Linked DNA regions of Homo sapiens: region 1 is linked to region 2. Evidence: fine-mapped expression QTL. Tissue or cell type: whole blood. Region 2 holds a variant in brackets; the other region holds the start of a gene. All regions are shown on one strand. Distances are between the middles of the regions.

Region 1 (8,166 bases), 20 kb after region 2:
TGCATTTCCTTGCTCTCAAAGCCACCTTAGCTCATTAGGCAACTGGCATGGGTAACGTATTTTGTAGATAAGTGCAGTGACTCATAGGCCAGACACTCAGAGGGTATCCTATCCCAGCCAGGTGACGGTAACTCCAGCTTAGCAAATGGGCCAGTGTCCCCTTTCCTCATCTATGAAGTGGACTGTTGAATGAGATGCAGGTTACTCTGCCCAGCAATGTGTCGTGGTTCTTAGGCAATACTGTCAATGCCCTGAAAGCAGAGCTCTCTTGGGGATGAGGGTCTTGCGGTCACTGAGACCTGACACCTTTCTGGGGCACACCCATGGAAGTCTATGGAAGATACCCAGTTTTCCTCTAGAAACCCCCAAAATTATAGTTGCCAGAGTCAACAACTTGGCCATCTCACTTGGTTCTATGCTGATAGAGGACAAAAATATTCAGTGAATTTCATTTTAATCTGTAATTAATAAACTGTTTCCAAATATGATTAAGTAACCTGACTTCTCTGTCACTTAGGGTTTAGCAAATGTTGGGTTATGGACGTAAAATTTATTTTAAAATCAAGTATGTTCAGAGAAGTTTTGCCAAGCATAAATGTAAAAGAGAGGAAAAAAAAGAAGGAACTTTAGAAATTTCTCATTATTTAAAAAAATAAAAAATGAAAATAAATAAAATCAAGTATGAAAACATTAGGACTGAGTCTCTCTCTGAAAGCCTTTTAAATGAAGATATTGTTTTCAACTTAAAGTAACTACATTAATTTCCTGTTTATGTCACTAGACTTTGAATTTCAAATAACAAAAATTTTCAAAGTCTTTGTATATTTCAAAATATAAATTTCACAGAAACAATTTTAAAATGTTTCCTATTATAAAACAAGTTATCTTTCTCATTCATCCACACAGAGGAAATACACATCTGTGTTCAGTACTTTGTGTCCTATTTCTCAACCTCAATCCATTGACAGACCTCCCCTGCTCAGTTTTACATTTTTTGATGAGTGCTTCTTGGCCTATAACCAGCTGTGAACACACAAACGAACAGGCAGCCTTCTCAAGTATGGGTAGGGCGCAGAAGAGGAACTTACTGGACTGGGGCACAAAGTCAGCTGCTTGTGAGACTCATCACTGGGTGGAAGTGCCCTGAGGCCAGGACTTCTATGTCTCGTGTCTTTTTGGACACAGTATCCAGAAAAAGACCAGCCCAAGACCCGGTCCTCCATAAACACTTGCAGAATGAATTCCTTGGAAAGCTTTTAACAAGACTCTCAAACTCTCAGGGTTTCTTCCCCTTAGCAATAGAATGAGGAAAGTTACATATGCTACCCCGATTTTCACAAGTATCAAATAATAGAAAGCTGGGGAATGCATTTGTAAAAAAGAGAGCATTGTATTAGCATTGACCTTTTTTTTTTTGAGACAAGTCTCGCTCTCTCGCCAGGCTGGAGTGCAGTGGCGCAATCTCGGCTCACTGCAACCTCTGACTCCCTGGTTCAAGCGATTCTCCTGCCTCAGCCTCCTGAGCAGCTGGGATTACAGGCACGCGCCACCATGCCCAGCTAATTTTTGTATATTTAGTAGAGATGGGGTTTCTCCATGTTGGCCAGAATGGTCTCGATCTCCTGACCTCATAATCCGCCCGCCTTAGGCTCCCAAAGGGCTGGCATTACAGGCATGAGCCACTGCGCCCGGCCATTATTGACCATCTTAGTGAGACCTCCAGCACCTAGTACGGGATCTGGCACACAGGAAGCACTAATTGACTACTTGCTCTTAGACTACATGTATTTTCAGCCCATTTGACCTCCTACATCGCTGATGGTTTATGTATGACTTCTAGAAATTTTATTTCTACATGGAAGAAACCTCGTTTCCTATTCCCACCACCCCCCCACCCCCCCCCCCGCTTGTTTCCCACTGTATTCTTTCCGGAGGCACGCCTGCAGCCCAGCCCTCCTTGCAGAACCCTGTGACACCAGAGGCGTGTGTATCCAGAATCAGGCAGATTCCTGAACTCCCACTGGTCAGCCAGTGTCTAGTGCTGCTCTTCATAAACAATGCCTGGAGTGTGCTCACACGTGTACCTCTTCTTGGCAAAGACAGTAAATGGAAGGAGACAAGGAGTTGTCTAATAAACTTGGCATTGAGATGAAACAGGAAACAAAGACATGTATCCGGATAAAGATAAATACTGTTCTGAGTTTCTGATCTTGTCAACTTCAGATTTTTTAAGTGCCTGTGTCCCAGGAAAATGATTTGCCTCACTGGTGTGCTTCATTTCTTTCAATATTAGACTTAAAAGCAAGCCCTCCTCCAGTACTGGATTAACAGTTTTGTTTGAAAGATGTGTTTTACCCTCGGGAACCGGCCATACTGATCCTATCTAGTACTTCCAATTCTGATTTAGGGATGCCATAAGAGAAACTTTTTAAACAAGTAATTCTCTTCTACTTTTTTGTCTATTCCTCAGGTCTCTCAATGGTTACAGAACCCATGTCTGTGTCTAATATCATGGCAGCTGGGACAAAGAAAACCAAGATGAAACATTTGAGATTGTTCCAGCTGAAACAAACCAACCAAAACCCCACAGGTGCCAGCCTTGAGGCAAAGGCGGGACAGTGTCAGGCGAAATCTTTGGGTCCCAGCCTCAGTCTCCCCATCACCATGTCTTTTTCACTTAAACACGTTTCACTGTTTTGTCATCTATAGATTCAACAATGTGATTTGGACACTGGGAATAAGAGAATAAGATTTGATGGTTGAAATAAAACACACCACGAGAGAACCGTCCACAAGGAAACTCTAAGATGCCAAGATGCGGGACAGGTAGAAAGGACAGGGCTTTGGGAGTACTCTGGGTTTTCAGGACGAATCTGTATCAGCCTCGGCGCTGCGAGGATATTGCATCAGGCTCTTTACTCCTGAACGCCGTTTTAGACGCCTAAGCAGATTGTGCTGCTGCCTGTTCTTCCCCGTTCTGTGAATTCTACACTGACTTCAAGTGCACGAATGAGCTACAAGATAAGGTGGAACCTGCCGGCCGGGCACGGCAGACAGCACCTGATCAGCGCCTCGGAGGGCGGAGCTGGGGGGCTTCTCCACTCGGGACTTTGAGGGACCCCCGCGGAGCGCTCCGCGCCACTCGGCGGTCTAGCTGCAGAGAAAGCCCCTCCTCACCCGGGGCTCCCTGTGGCCCACAGGGGACCATCCCACACCCCGTGCAGCCAGCGGCGGAGAAACCAGCTGGAAATGCAGTGGGGGTGGAGTTGCCCCCGCGAGGACCCACGGACCGCCCAATTACTACGGAGTCCCAGCGATAACGTTTGGAGCCGTTTGGTTCGATTTTCGGAACCGGACCAGCTTTCCAGTAACTTGAACTCCCTGACGGGTCTCGGGGTCCACCCAGGGGTGGCGAGGCGGGCTCGGGCGACCACGGCCCGCTCAGTGCCCGGCACCTGCGCGCCCCGAGGGCGGCCGCATTACCTCGAGCCGGCTCAGGCTGGAGCTCTTGGAGCGCGACTTCCTGCGCAGGTACACAGAGAAGAACCTGCGCACGGCGAACTTCTTCATGCTCAGGTCCATCGCCCCGCGCCCAGCCCGGAGCAGCCGCAGGGCCGGGGGACGCGCATCCCCGGCATCCCAGGCGCGGGGCTCAGGTCCGCGGGCGGGCACGCGTGGCCAGGGAGCCCGGCACGGCGGCCATGGGCGCGGGGCGTGGGGCGCGAGCTGCGGTCACAAAGGGCAGGCCGCGCCGGCCACCGCGGCCGGGGCCACAATCGCTCCCTCCGCCTCCTTCTCCGCCTCCCCTGCGAGTACCAGCGCCGGCCACGCGCCACGCCTACACCACGCCCACCACCACTACCACCAATCAGCGCCCGCCGCTCCGCGCCCCGGCACGCACACCTCCTCCTCCTCCGCCCCGCCCCGCCACTACGGCCAATCAGCGCTCACCACCCCTCCCGTTCCCACCCACCACCAGCACTGCCAATGAGAGCCCACCGCCCCGCCCGGGAGAGCCCCGCCTCTGCCGATACCTCCAATCATCAGCGCCGCCCTGTGGTTCCAGGTGCCCATCCCTCCTCCTCTTTCTACTCCTTCCTACAAGAACCAGCTCCGTGCAGCCCCGCCCCCACGCGGTTCCGCCCACGGCCCCGCCCACAGCACTGCCCGCCAATCAGTGCCCGCAGCCGCCGCATACCTAATGAGCCTCGGCCCGGGACAGCTCCCGGCCCGGGCGAGTTGTGCAGCTGCTCCGGAGCCGCGCAGTCGCGGGCGTTCCTGTCACGCAACTTCGGCCCGGCTGCTCTTTCTTCCAGCTTGGGGCCGTCATTATGTTTTCCTTCCTTAAAACATCCCTATGCACACTTTGTCATCATGTTTTTCTCTGCCGAACCAAACTTTAATTGTTGATCAGCAAACGCAGCCAAAACCTCAGCGGCACAGCGAGCGAGGGACCGCCGCCTGCCAGCGGGCCCTGCAGCTCGGCCAGGAGCCGCCCTCCGCGGAACCGGCGCCTTCCCTCCGCCGGAGCGGACAAAGGCGCCCGAGGGCGGGGGCTCAGGCAGCCCTCGGGGCGCCTCCCTCCCGCGGCTGCAGAACAAAGACGCATCCGCCCTCCGCAGCCGGTCCCGCTCTAGGAAACGTCTACACAGATGGCTTATCAGGGCCCGCGCTGGGAATACCCGGGCGGGGTGACCTGGGTCTAGGGCAAGGCCCTCAGACCCGCTGCTGGCGGCAGCGCCGCTCGGGATCCGCCTTAAAGGGAAACACTTTTTTCTTTTTTTTCCTAGAAATGCTCACCAAGGGCTGCAGCAGGGCCGAGAATGCGGGCTCACGACCCCGTGCAGCCTGCTCTGTTTTCCTCTTGTGCACGTGTTGAGTTTGTATTTAAAAACAGGGAGAAACCGAGCCCATTGACATAGCACCATCACCACCTGCAAAGAGCAGAAACGAGTGCGGTGGTGAGTTGACAAGTCTTGCTTGCTCTTTTGCAGTGCGAACTGCAAAATCCTCGCGTTGTTTTGCTCCCTGGACTAGTCAGATGTTGCGTTAATACTTGTGTAGTCTATTTTGGCTAAGGTGGGTAGAGAGGTCAGAATGTCCTTAAATAAGAGCTTTAAAGTCATGCTGCATCCGGGCTGAGGTGAGGTCAGATAGGCTCTCTGGGTTTCCTGGAGACCCGCGTTGAGCGGTGCTGCTCCGGAGTGGAAGCCGGGAGTTTAGCACCACGACTCTGGCGCTGCCCCTTCCTTGCTTGGTGAACTTGGGTGCCGTTGCACGTTGTTCCCACGACTCATCTCTAAGAGGAAAATACGAGTGAAACCTGTCTCACCTCCCTTACTGGATACCAAGAGGCTTATGCAAGATCACGGATGTGGGAGTGCTTTGTGAATTTAAATAGTGCAATTGATTTTCATATTATGTATTAAAGGATCTATAATGACTATTCTTTAAAAACAGAAGTGCAGGACCCCACAAGGACACCAAACACCACTTTTTGCTCCTTTTCAAGATGGTGTGCCAGTTAAGTGCCCATGAAAACTGCTTTGCCTGCTTCCTTTAAGGTTCTGCTGGGAGGGTAGTAATCTGTGCTCTCAGAACCAGCCTCTTAGTGCCCTGTATCCCTGCTGGGACCCTCAGGCATCCTGGCTCTAGGCAAACACAAAGACACTCTGTACCCAGCACGGGAAGAGGTAGATGGACCTCCAACTGGACACAGACTCCGGGAATGAGGGAGGACCAACCCGACCATGCTTCCCTCGGAAGGGGAGCCAGTAATACTGGCCGGAGACAGGAGTGCTGAATGCCACCTATACCAACTCATGGGCATCCTGTTCAGGACAAAAGCCCCAAGGCAGGCAGGCCTAAGTCAAGGCTTGTGTTGTACCAACAATAGTATTTTGACCTGATCTGACAAAATTGGAAAGGAAATATTTCATGGGACATTCATTAGTTCCCCAAATTTGAAGGCAACAAAACTGTTCTGTTGAACTTGGGAGGGAAAATCATTCAGATTTCACTGGAATTCATTGCTAGAACAATAAATCTGTTTGCCTTTGTTTTTCTCCTGGTAAAATACACGTATACCAAAATCTCTAGTGATCATGGAACACTACTTCATGTGATTATGTAATGAAATCCTCCAAAACCACTAAATCTAGGGTAGGTATAATATCAAGACCCACTGTAACCGAAATCCAAATTATCCTTACCAAATACCAGAAAAGAAAGTGAACTTGATAAAGGCTCTTGCCCAGATGATGGAATGGGAGAGGACTGAAGAGAAGATAAAGAGCTTGGTAGACCTCTGAGTATCTCACATTTCCTCTGACTCAAGCACAGTAAGTTTGAGACTGAATTCCGTGGTGACTGCTGCTTCTATGAGTACCAGATTAGCTGATGTGTGGTCAATGCAATTCCACAAGTGATTATCGAGCACTAACATCTGGCACTGTGGTGGTCATTTGTGACACAAAATGATTACAACATCCCAAGAAGTTCACAGTCTTATGGAAGAGAAGGTGAGTGAACAGACAAAGCTCATGCCGTTTTTATGTAAAGTGAAAGAAATGCGTAAGAGATGAATGAGAAGCCAATTCTAATTGGCGAAGTCAAGGAGGAGATGGCCTTTGCTCTGAACCCCTGAGGGTAAGAAGATGAGGGAATAAGTTTCCTGGACAGACAAGAGGAGGCGGGAGTCCCAGGCTGAGGAATAACAGGGCACTGTCAGGCAGCTGTGACAAGGTTTCCCATCTCTCCCTGCTACACAGGCACCTTGTGGGTAAGGCTGGTGTGCTCTCTGCATATGGGAAGATGCCACATTCTCGGGGCACCCCACAGGAGTGGCTTGAGTGACATCCAAGAGCTTCTAATTAGTCAAGTACCACAAATGTCTGTTCGTCTCCAAACAGTCCTACAGGCTGCTGAAAGTTTCAAGCTTCTAAAACTCCCACATATTTTCAATAAAACGCTAAATTGCACTTCAAGTGAAACTATATATCTTTAAAATAAATTGAAACATTCGGTCTTCATTAGGACTAAAGTTTTGCCATGGGAGGTGAATTCACTAGGTTCACCTGATGCAAAACTTCACCAGGATCACCAGGGTCACCTGGTGCTGGCCATCTGCGAAAGCAGGAAGTCGTGCTTTTCCGGAGTATCAGCATTCGAAGGCTCTGCCCATCACAGGCATCCTGCTGGATGCTCCAGAGACAGTGTCCAGCCAGTACGAGGGAGGGAGGTGGGCTTCAGTGTGTGCCCCTGTGAACTACTTCCTGTGGCTGTGATACAAATGGGTTTAGTCAAGCTTCCCTTAGTGTAGTCCCTGAGTGTACAGAAAGGAATCCTTTTCCTGGGCTGTGGATCCCCGTGTACTTGAAATGTTTATGACTTTGAAGTTTCTTGAATGTAGGAATTAGTCCTTGCTCAGGAAGATGGTCTTAAAGTCCTGAGACCCTAGAAGGTAAACTGTAGTGGACAGTTCAGGTGGGGGCACGTTCGGAGCAGGTGTCAGCAAGGGGCCTGGAGCTGTCAGGGAAGGGCTTCTTGGGCCCTCGGCAAAAGTCAGAAGGGATCAAGTTTGCCTCTGGTCTCTGGCTGGCCCCTGGCCCTCACCCACAGGACACTTGGGTCTCATTCACATCTGGGTGCCAACCAAGCCATGTCAGAATGACACCTGTGCCCTCAGTTTAACAGTTTAAAATCTCTGAGCATATCGAAAATTTAAAAAGAAAGTCTTAATGCGTAAAAGTCTTCAAAATGACAGAAATAAAGCTCTAATGGTGAAGTACCAGGAAATGGAATTTACATTTGAAACCAGAGGGCCTGGTTTCTGAGTAGTCAGGAGAGGCAGGTGGAAACCCACAGGCCAGTTGTACTTGACCCTTATTGACTGGCTTACATTTAGGAAGAAAAACCACATTGGGTTTCAAGCTGTGGAAACCATCATGGTTGGCTTCCTCCCTCCCCGCTGGAGCCCTCATCCCCCATCCAACCTGGGTAGGAAGGCACAGGGCTCACAGAAGGTGGGCTTCACCTGCAACACCTCCCCCGCCAGCCCGCTGTGAGGACAGCTTTGGATTTTATTGGTTTTTAAATACTATGTTCCTTCATACCACTTTCTTTTGAAACCCATTTATAAACCATAGGGCCAGAATCTACAGAGAG
Region 2 (8,201 bases):
AGGGCTTTGGCATGGAAGTGCAGGTTGCTGAAGGAGTCATGGGAGGGGACATGACAGAAGATGCTTCCACCTGGGCAACACCTGTCATTGGGAGGGCATCGTGAACATGGCTGGCACATTCCGGGTGATCTAAGGCTCAAGTTAGACAAAGTTAACAGGCACAGGAAGGATACTGAATATTGCGAGGTTGCAGAAGGGAGGCCAGGGAATGGCTGTGGCCCAGGTGTATCAAATAAATGCCCCCGTACTGTTGTTTGCGATAACAAGTCAGGGGTGTTAGAGGAGCCAAAGACCCCCTCAGCACCCACCAAACGGGCAATCGAGGTTGTTTTAGGCAGAAACTGGATTGCCGCAAAGCTGACATGTTGGAAGGGGTGAGATGAGAGCTAAGAACTTCTCCAACTCGTCCTAACGTGTCCCTCCTAGAAGTCACGAAGAGAAAAGGGCGAGACTATGAAACAAAGTGTGTAAAGGTGGAAAGAAGTAAAAATAAAATTAAGAAGAGTTCCATCCTGATTAACCCTCCATGGAAAAGCTCCAGAGAAGGTGCCTCTGCCAATTGAAAGTTTTTCACTGTGAGCAACTCTACGTAAAATGCATCTGGACCAGCACATTCCCCTGTGGACAGCTCTGCATGGAGATGTGACGGGGACAAATGATCTGGGAAATCATTGTTTTCGTATCAGTGTTTGTAAGTTTCAGAGTTTACTTGAATGGGAACATAACAGCTCACTAATAAAAAATGAGGAATGTCTTACTTTTTTTAAAAAACGTTTCCCCAAATAGGTTTGCTTATATGATCTATTTGGGGGTTTGGAATGAGTATGTGGAAAACTGAAAAAAAAAAAATTCAGAAATTAATAAAGACATAAACTCCATGTTTTATAATGCCCAGAGTGGTGCGTGCTTCCCCGCTGGGGTAACTGAAGTTGCCGGAGCTGGGTTCACTGGGGATCGTAAGGGAGCTTCCCGGGCGGGGCCATCCCCAGCTGGGGGAGGTGGCATCCAGGCACCTCATATGCCGTGCCTCGGGCCTTACCTGAGCATCAGAGTTTTTAAAAGTCCTTCTGTCATGGGCTTGCTGTAAGAAGTCAACATAAATATGGACAGTGCTCAGAACATGGGGCGCCTGATGTCTGGAGCAGCAAACTGTGATCAAACACTCATATTTCCACAGCAAAATAATGATCCACACTAATGGAGGTAAAGAAGGAGAAGACTACGAGCCTTCCTCACCCAACGCAGACCTACCAGGGCTCTGTGCGCCAGTGCCACAGGCATCCCTTGGGTGGTCACGTAGCCTAAAATACGAATGAGACTAAATATAGGGATGTGAAAGTTCTGCTTGACACTTAAATGTGCTTATTAAGACTTAATCCAATTATATTATCGGGATTGATATCTATAAGTCTCTAATAGACATTCCTATTTAAGTTTTAAAATATCATGCTTCCCACAGCTGGCCCCTCAGGCCCTCCCGTTCCAGGGCTTCACTGCGACCACGTGGCACTCTTCACTGGGAATATCCCTCTTGCCTCTCCTAGAACTGCCTCCAACCAGATTCTGGCGGGAGATGATGCAACCTGCAACCAAGTCACCTGCACAGGGGCCCTGGCCCCCAAGGGCCTTGGGTGTTGCCAGTAGATCCATGTTCATTTTATCAACGACATTCTACCCCTCTAAAGCCACATTGTGTTTGCAATCTACAACAGGTAGATGACATCAAGTCTTACAGCATTTACAATAATTTCAAGACAATGACTCTTATCTCCTTAATTAGATTACGAGCTCCTTAAAAGGCATCCCTTGGGTGGTCACGTAGCCTAAAATACGAATGAGACTAAATATAGGGATGTGAAAGTTCTGCTTGATGCTTAAATGTGCTTATTAAGACTTAATCCAATTATGTTATCGGGATTGATATCTATAAGTCTCTAATAGACATTCCTATTTAAGTTTTAAAATATCATGCTTCCTATCTAGGCACGTAAAATGCCATGTGACATTAGAACAAAAAATTAGCATGTAGAATGATTAGCATGTGAAATATGATATTAGAACAATAAATTAACATGTAGAGTATGATTTAATGTGAAAGGGCCACGTGAGGTGGCATTTTAGATAGAAATGCACTCACGCACACACACAAGCACAGATACACCTCCCTCCACACATTCAACTGAGATCTTTCAAAGGTGACATCAAAATAAAAATAGCACACAAATTTTATGGAAAAGAGCAAATCAAAAGATTGTTTTCTGTAGTGATAAGACCTGAAATGAAAACACATGACCAGTGGTGGAGACATAAAGGCATTACGCTGCCCAGAGGCGCAGCAACCAAAATAGAAAGCTCTTTACTTTGCAGGTTGATGTGATTTAGCCTAAGGCACTAAATCAGCACCTGTTATCAGATCACGGTCCTTGGGTCCTGATTTCCTTCTGCCAGCAAAGCACCTTGATGAGTGTCTACAAGAGGGCAAAGGCAGCATAATGCCGCCCATGGTAGGACTGCGGGGCTGCACACATTAGGCTCTTTGACGCTTTTATTACAGCTACAGCCCAAGGATGCAGTTCCAACTCCTGCCCTTATGAAAATAAAATGGTGCACACCATACAAGACTATTTAAATAGACCAGACTTCAGCCATCTGCACCCCACTTCTTTTGAGACCCACAAGGTCGGAGTGCTTGCACGAGAGGTAAAATGATTTCCCTGGAAACACGCTCACCTGTGCACCATGAGAGACCCAAAGCTGAATAGCCCTCTTGCCTTCCTTGCTCGATTACACAAGAAAAGCAAAAGCAAAAAGCACCTGGCATGGTGAATTTAATTCTGCAAAAATATATCCTGAATACAACTCCCTATTGGAAATGTGAATATCTAAGCAGCGTTGTGTAGGCCTTTCAAAGCGACTGCAAATTATGGTGGAATAATATGGTTAACACAGAAGTTATGGCATTTTTGCTGTAAACAATACCATCAAGAAAATGAAAATACAACCCACTACGGGGAAAAGTATTTGCAAATAATATGCCTGAGAAGGCACTTGTATCTAGAATATATACATAATTCTTATAACTCAACAATAAAAAGATAAATCACCCAATTTTTAAAAATGGGCTAGTGACCTGATGTGACATTTCTCCAAAAACATACAGCCAATAAAAACATGAGAAGATGCTCTACATCATTTGTCATCAGAGGAATGCAAATCAAAACCATAAGGAGGCACCACTTCATACCCACCAGGATGGCTGTATTCAAAAGGTGAACAATAACAAGTGGGGAAAAAATGGATCTCGGCTGGGCATGGTGGCTCACGCCTGTAATCCCAGTACTTTGGGAGGCCAAGATGGGCAGATCACCTGAGGTCAGGAGTTTGAGACCAGCCTTGACCAACAGGGTGAAATCCTGTCTCTACTAAAAATGCAAAAAGTAGCTGGGTGTGCTGGCAGGTGCCTATAATCCCAGCTACTAGGGAGACTGAGGCAGAAGAATTGCTTGAACCCGGGATGCA[G/A]AGGTTGCAGTGAGCCGAGATTGTGCCATTGCACTCCAGCCTGGGCAACAAGAGGAAAACTCCGTCAAAAAAAAAAAAAAAAAAAGCTCCATCTATCACTGCTGGGTGGGAATGTACAATGTTGCAATCACTTTGGAAAATGGTCTAGAAGTTCCTCAAAAGCTCAGACATAGAGTTGCCATCCCAGATCCAGCAATTCCACTCCCAGGTATAAACCCAGGAGAAATAAAAACATATGTCCACACAAAAACCTGTACAAAAATGTTCACAGCACCATTAGTCACAACAGCCAAAAAGTAGGGACAACCCAAATGTCTATCAACTTACTAATGGATTAAAAAAATGTAGTATATCCATGCAGTGGAATATTACTTGGCAATAGAGAGAAATACCTGCTACAACACGAACGAACCTTGAATACATGAGGCTAAGTGAAAGAAGCCAGCCACAAAACCCCACATTGTATGATTCCGTTTATATGAAATACCCAGAATAGGCAACTCTACGGAGACAGAAAGTGGATGTAGGGCTGCAGGGGGTCGTGGAGGGGAAAAGGGGGACAGGGTTCTGTTCTGAAGGACGAAAACATTACAGATGTGGTAACAGTTGCACAACCTTGTGAATACACTTAAAACATGGAATTGTACATTTTAAATGGGTGAATTGTATGGTATGTGAATTAGATCTCAAAGCTGTATGCAAAAACAGAAACAAAATGTTATGGCATTCAGGGCAATTTGAAGCAAAACAAATACTGAGATGGTTCTTCAGAAGGGACTTTCCTTTAGCCGGGCACCAGGTGGCATGTACCTGTGGTCCCAGCTATTCAGGAGGCTGAGGCAGGAGGATCACTTAAGCCCAGGAGGTGGAAGCAGCAGTGAGCCATGATCGTGCCCCTGCACTTCTGCCAGAGCGAGAAGGCAAAACCTTGTCTCAGAAAGAAAAAAAAAAAAAAGAGAGAGAGAGACTGTCTTGGTGCCTTTTATTATAGTGCATCTTGAAGAATGGAGGGGAGTGCCTTCTTCCACACATCTAGCTTTCATTCTGAGTCCATACTCAGGACAGATTTGGAATTTTTCACAAAGACTCCCAGGAGGCAATGGCTTAGTGTATGATAAGTAATTTCCTCAGGATATTTGCTTCCTGGCAACAAAATAAAATTTAGAATGCAAACAATATGGTATATTTTGAAACAGAGTCCCCCAGAGGGTAGACAACGCTTCTCTTAGCCACTGTATAGAACAGTCTAGAAGTTGGATAACCTTATTTGTATGGTAGTAACCAATATCTCTATATTCATGTGAATTCAATCCAATTTGGTGCTACAAAAATTAAAAATGCTTGACTCAAAATTCTTACATCTAACCTGACTCAACAATCCATCGGCGCATGAAAAAAAAAATTCCCCTTTAAGAATTTCTAGTTATTGAATTCAGGATTGTTTATCTCTGAGAGGGAGACAAAATCAGAAGTAAGTTTGGAGTCTCAGGGAAAACATAACAAGTTGATTATTGTTTAAGTCTAAAAGGCACCAAAGCACTTGTCCCTGGGTACCACTCAGATGCAGGCAACATTCAGTTAAAGTGCCTCATGGCTTTTTTTCCTATGAGGCCTACAGAATGGTCCCTCACAAGTTTTCTATTTCTGTTCTGCTTCAAAGAAAGACTTTCTCAACTTTTTTAGGGCTCCAGTCCTGGCCCATCGTGGATGGTGAGATATTCTTTAGATGTTTGTTCTGTTTTTTTTTAAGTTGATATATATTTAGGCCCAAAGTCATGTTTATTCACAAATCCAAACAACCGGCAAGCTAAGGCTAATTTTTTCATGTAGAATATTTATGAAAGAAAACAATGAATAAACAACTTAAGATTGGGGATTTACTCTGAAGGGCACTTTCCGGAACATGTCATAGGCTCAGCCCCAGTTCAACCCCATCTCCACTGCGGTTTGGAAAATTGTCAGGCCTGAGAGAGAGCAAGGGGTTCTGTTTACTCCACTCTAGGATTAAGGAATGGAAATATAGGGAGAGCCAAGTAAGGAGGTTGTGACTCAGTTCCTCCCCCTGGATAAATGTCTGCACAGACTTTAGACTTCTGGTTTTCAAACTGGGGTTCAATAGGACCCTGAGTTCAGTGGAGTGGGAGGTACTACAGAGATGAAGCAGATGCCCCTAAAAAGTGGCTCTTTCTGCATAAGATGTTTAAAAAACTGGGTTCCGGGTGTGAGATAAATGGCAGAACCTTGATTTAGATCTACTTTCGGGGTTGTTACAGAAAGATCTGTTGGGCTGTCTGGGGTGAGATTAGATGATTCTCATTATTTTTCTATGGTTAAAATTGCTATAGCTACCATGGTGTATTGCAAAGTTTGGTACTTATATCAATGACTCAGGAGCACTGAGACACTGATATACTGAATTATCAAAAGTTTAATTTTTTTTTTTTTTTTTTGAGACAGAGTTTTGCTCTTGTTGCCCAGGCTGGAGTGCAGTCTTGGCTCACCGTAATCTCCGCCTCCTGGGTTCAAGCAATTCTCCTGACTCGGCCTCCTGAGTAGCTGGGATTACAGGCGCATGCCACCACTCCCAGCTAATTTTTGTATTTTTAGTAGAGACGGGGCTTCACCATGTTGGTCAGGCTGGTCTCGAACTCCTGACCTCAGCTGATCTGCCCGCCTCGTCCTCCTAAAGTGCTGAGATTACAGGCGTGAGCCACCGTGCCTGGCGTAAAAGTTTAATTTTATTTAGACAAGTTTTAGTGTCAAGTATATTTTATTAATCTGTAATTACTCGAAAATGGGAAATTTACAAACTGGAATACTCAGGCAATTGGAAAACATCTCCCTACACTTATTTGAAGATTTAAAAAATGTATTAGCTTCGGACTAGTTATTCTTGTTCTCTTTTACATATTTTTCTAATCATTCCTACTCATTTTCTCATCTTGATTTTTTTCTCTCCTCCTATCTCCTCATTATATCTCTTGCTATTTAGTTCAACATGAGATCTTTTACAACCAAATAGCTTGCTAGAAACAGCAATGCTTCATGGTAAACAGCGTGAGGGAAAGATGTTCTGAAATGGTTATATAAGCACGTGTGGCATCAACTACAACGTGAGGCACGTCATTTGATCAATGTATAAATAGCAAGTCGTAAATGATTCTTTCCACTCCTGAGCAGCCTGGCAGTAGCACAGAAGGTAAATGCAAATGGCCTTCCGCTCCTTTCCCGTGAATAAGGAGATAATCCCACCAACATAGGCCTTGGCAGCAGGAAGCGCAGCAGGAAATTCATGTGAATTTCTGAATTCTGAGAGAACTAGTTACCCATCGGCTGTAGCAAAAATCAAGAACAAAATTCAAAGGAAAGAATTCATGATGGTTAATACAGATAAAACCTATGCAACTGGGTTACACACTTCATGAGGCCAAACACTTAAATATGCATTTAGCATAAAATGTGTTTCTGCCGAGGGCCATGGAGGCCTCCAAAAATGCTACTTTCACCCAGGGCCCCTCAGGAGTCTTTACCTTCTCCGTTGTTTCCTATATTAATAACAAATTCCTTCTACTAATTTATCAAAACATAATCACTGCAGTTAAAAGGCAGCGCTGCCAAATATTTGACCATAAAATCATATGGAAAGTAGTGGTAAAGAAATAATGTTACCATGTTTTCATAAAATTCATCCTACCAACAAATATATGCATATACAATTATTACATTTATTATAGAGTTATAACAGAATAGTTTTTAAAACTGGAAAGCCACATGTAATAAATAATATACCTTTCCTAAAATCAGTACTTATTTCTGTCTTTCTTTTTTGAATCCTCACTTCTTTAAATTACTATCTGCATATTCTGGATTTTAGCCTGGGAGAGTATTATGAGAATGAGAAGTACAAAGAAAAAGAACAAAAGTATCCTTAAACCTACTAAATACCCTGAAAGGATAAAAAGAATGATTGCAGACAGATAATATATTTATTTTTTTCAACGAATGAAATAAATTTAATCCTATTTATCCCAGTTTACTATCTCAAATAGACTGGTAAAACTGAAAAAGCATTTCTACTATGTTTTGAAGCAAATTTAAAAGTATTATTATATTTTCCAAATATACATCCTATTAAGACATGCCCATATTTTTCACATATAGCCATTTAGCATAATTTCAACAAGTCCAAAGCTGCTAAATATACCATATGTGCCCATTTATTCTAATGAACCAATAACACAAATACATTACCAGATTCATGCCCCTCTGCTCAGAAAGTATCACTAGCCTGTAGCTGCTGAAAAGCTGTTCCATCTCAGTCACCCACTCCACCATCATCCGACATGACCTATCCTGCTCCTGGCCAGAGGACCTTTTCAACATTGGATTCCAATTCCTCATCTAGGCAAAAGGTATATAACATACTTATCCTCAGGCAAGCTTCTTGTACAGAGTGAATGAGATAAAATATGTGTGTCACAACGCCTTTATCTGTGTCAGAGAAAATCCAAATCAAACTGGCTTAAACAATGAAAGAAATTGCTTGGCTCATATAACTGAAATATCTCAAGGTAATGTGGACTTCAAGCTCAGGCTGATCAGGGCTCCAATCTCATTTCTCTGTGGATTTCCCAGCTCTTTCCTCTCGTGTGTTGGCACCATCCTTAAGCTGGGTAACTTAT

The links. PIP is the estimated chance that this variant, and not a neighbour inherited with it, causes the effect.
Region 1: it holds the start of RPS6KA2, and the variant in region 2 is fine-mapped to the expression of RPS6KA2 in whole blood (INTERVAL, PIP 0.91).

What each region holds. Positions count from the first base shown.
Region 1 is chr6:166,623,438-166,631,603 of GRCh38, forward strand. RPS6KA2 (ribosomal protein S6 kinase A2) reads right to left here and starts at 3,814. Exons shown (of 21, transcript NM_021135.6): 1 at 3,484-3,814. The coding sequence starts at 3,582. RefSeq lists silencers at 3,684-4,033, 4,094-4,263, 4,514-4,573.
Region 2 is chr6:166,603,556-166,611,756 of GRCh38, forward strand. The region is part of intron 1 of RPS6KA2 (ribosomal protein S6 kinase A2); the gene reads right to left. Among named protein-coding and RNA genes, the nearest start is that of RPS6KA2, 20 kb to the right of the region's middle. The variant G/A (reference allele first, on the strand shown) is at 3,520.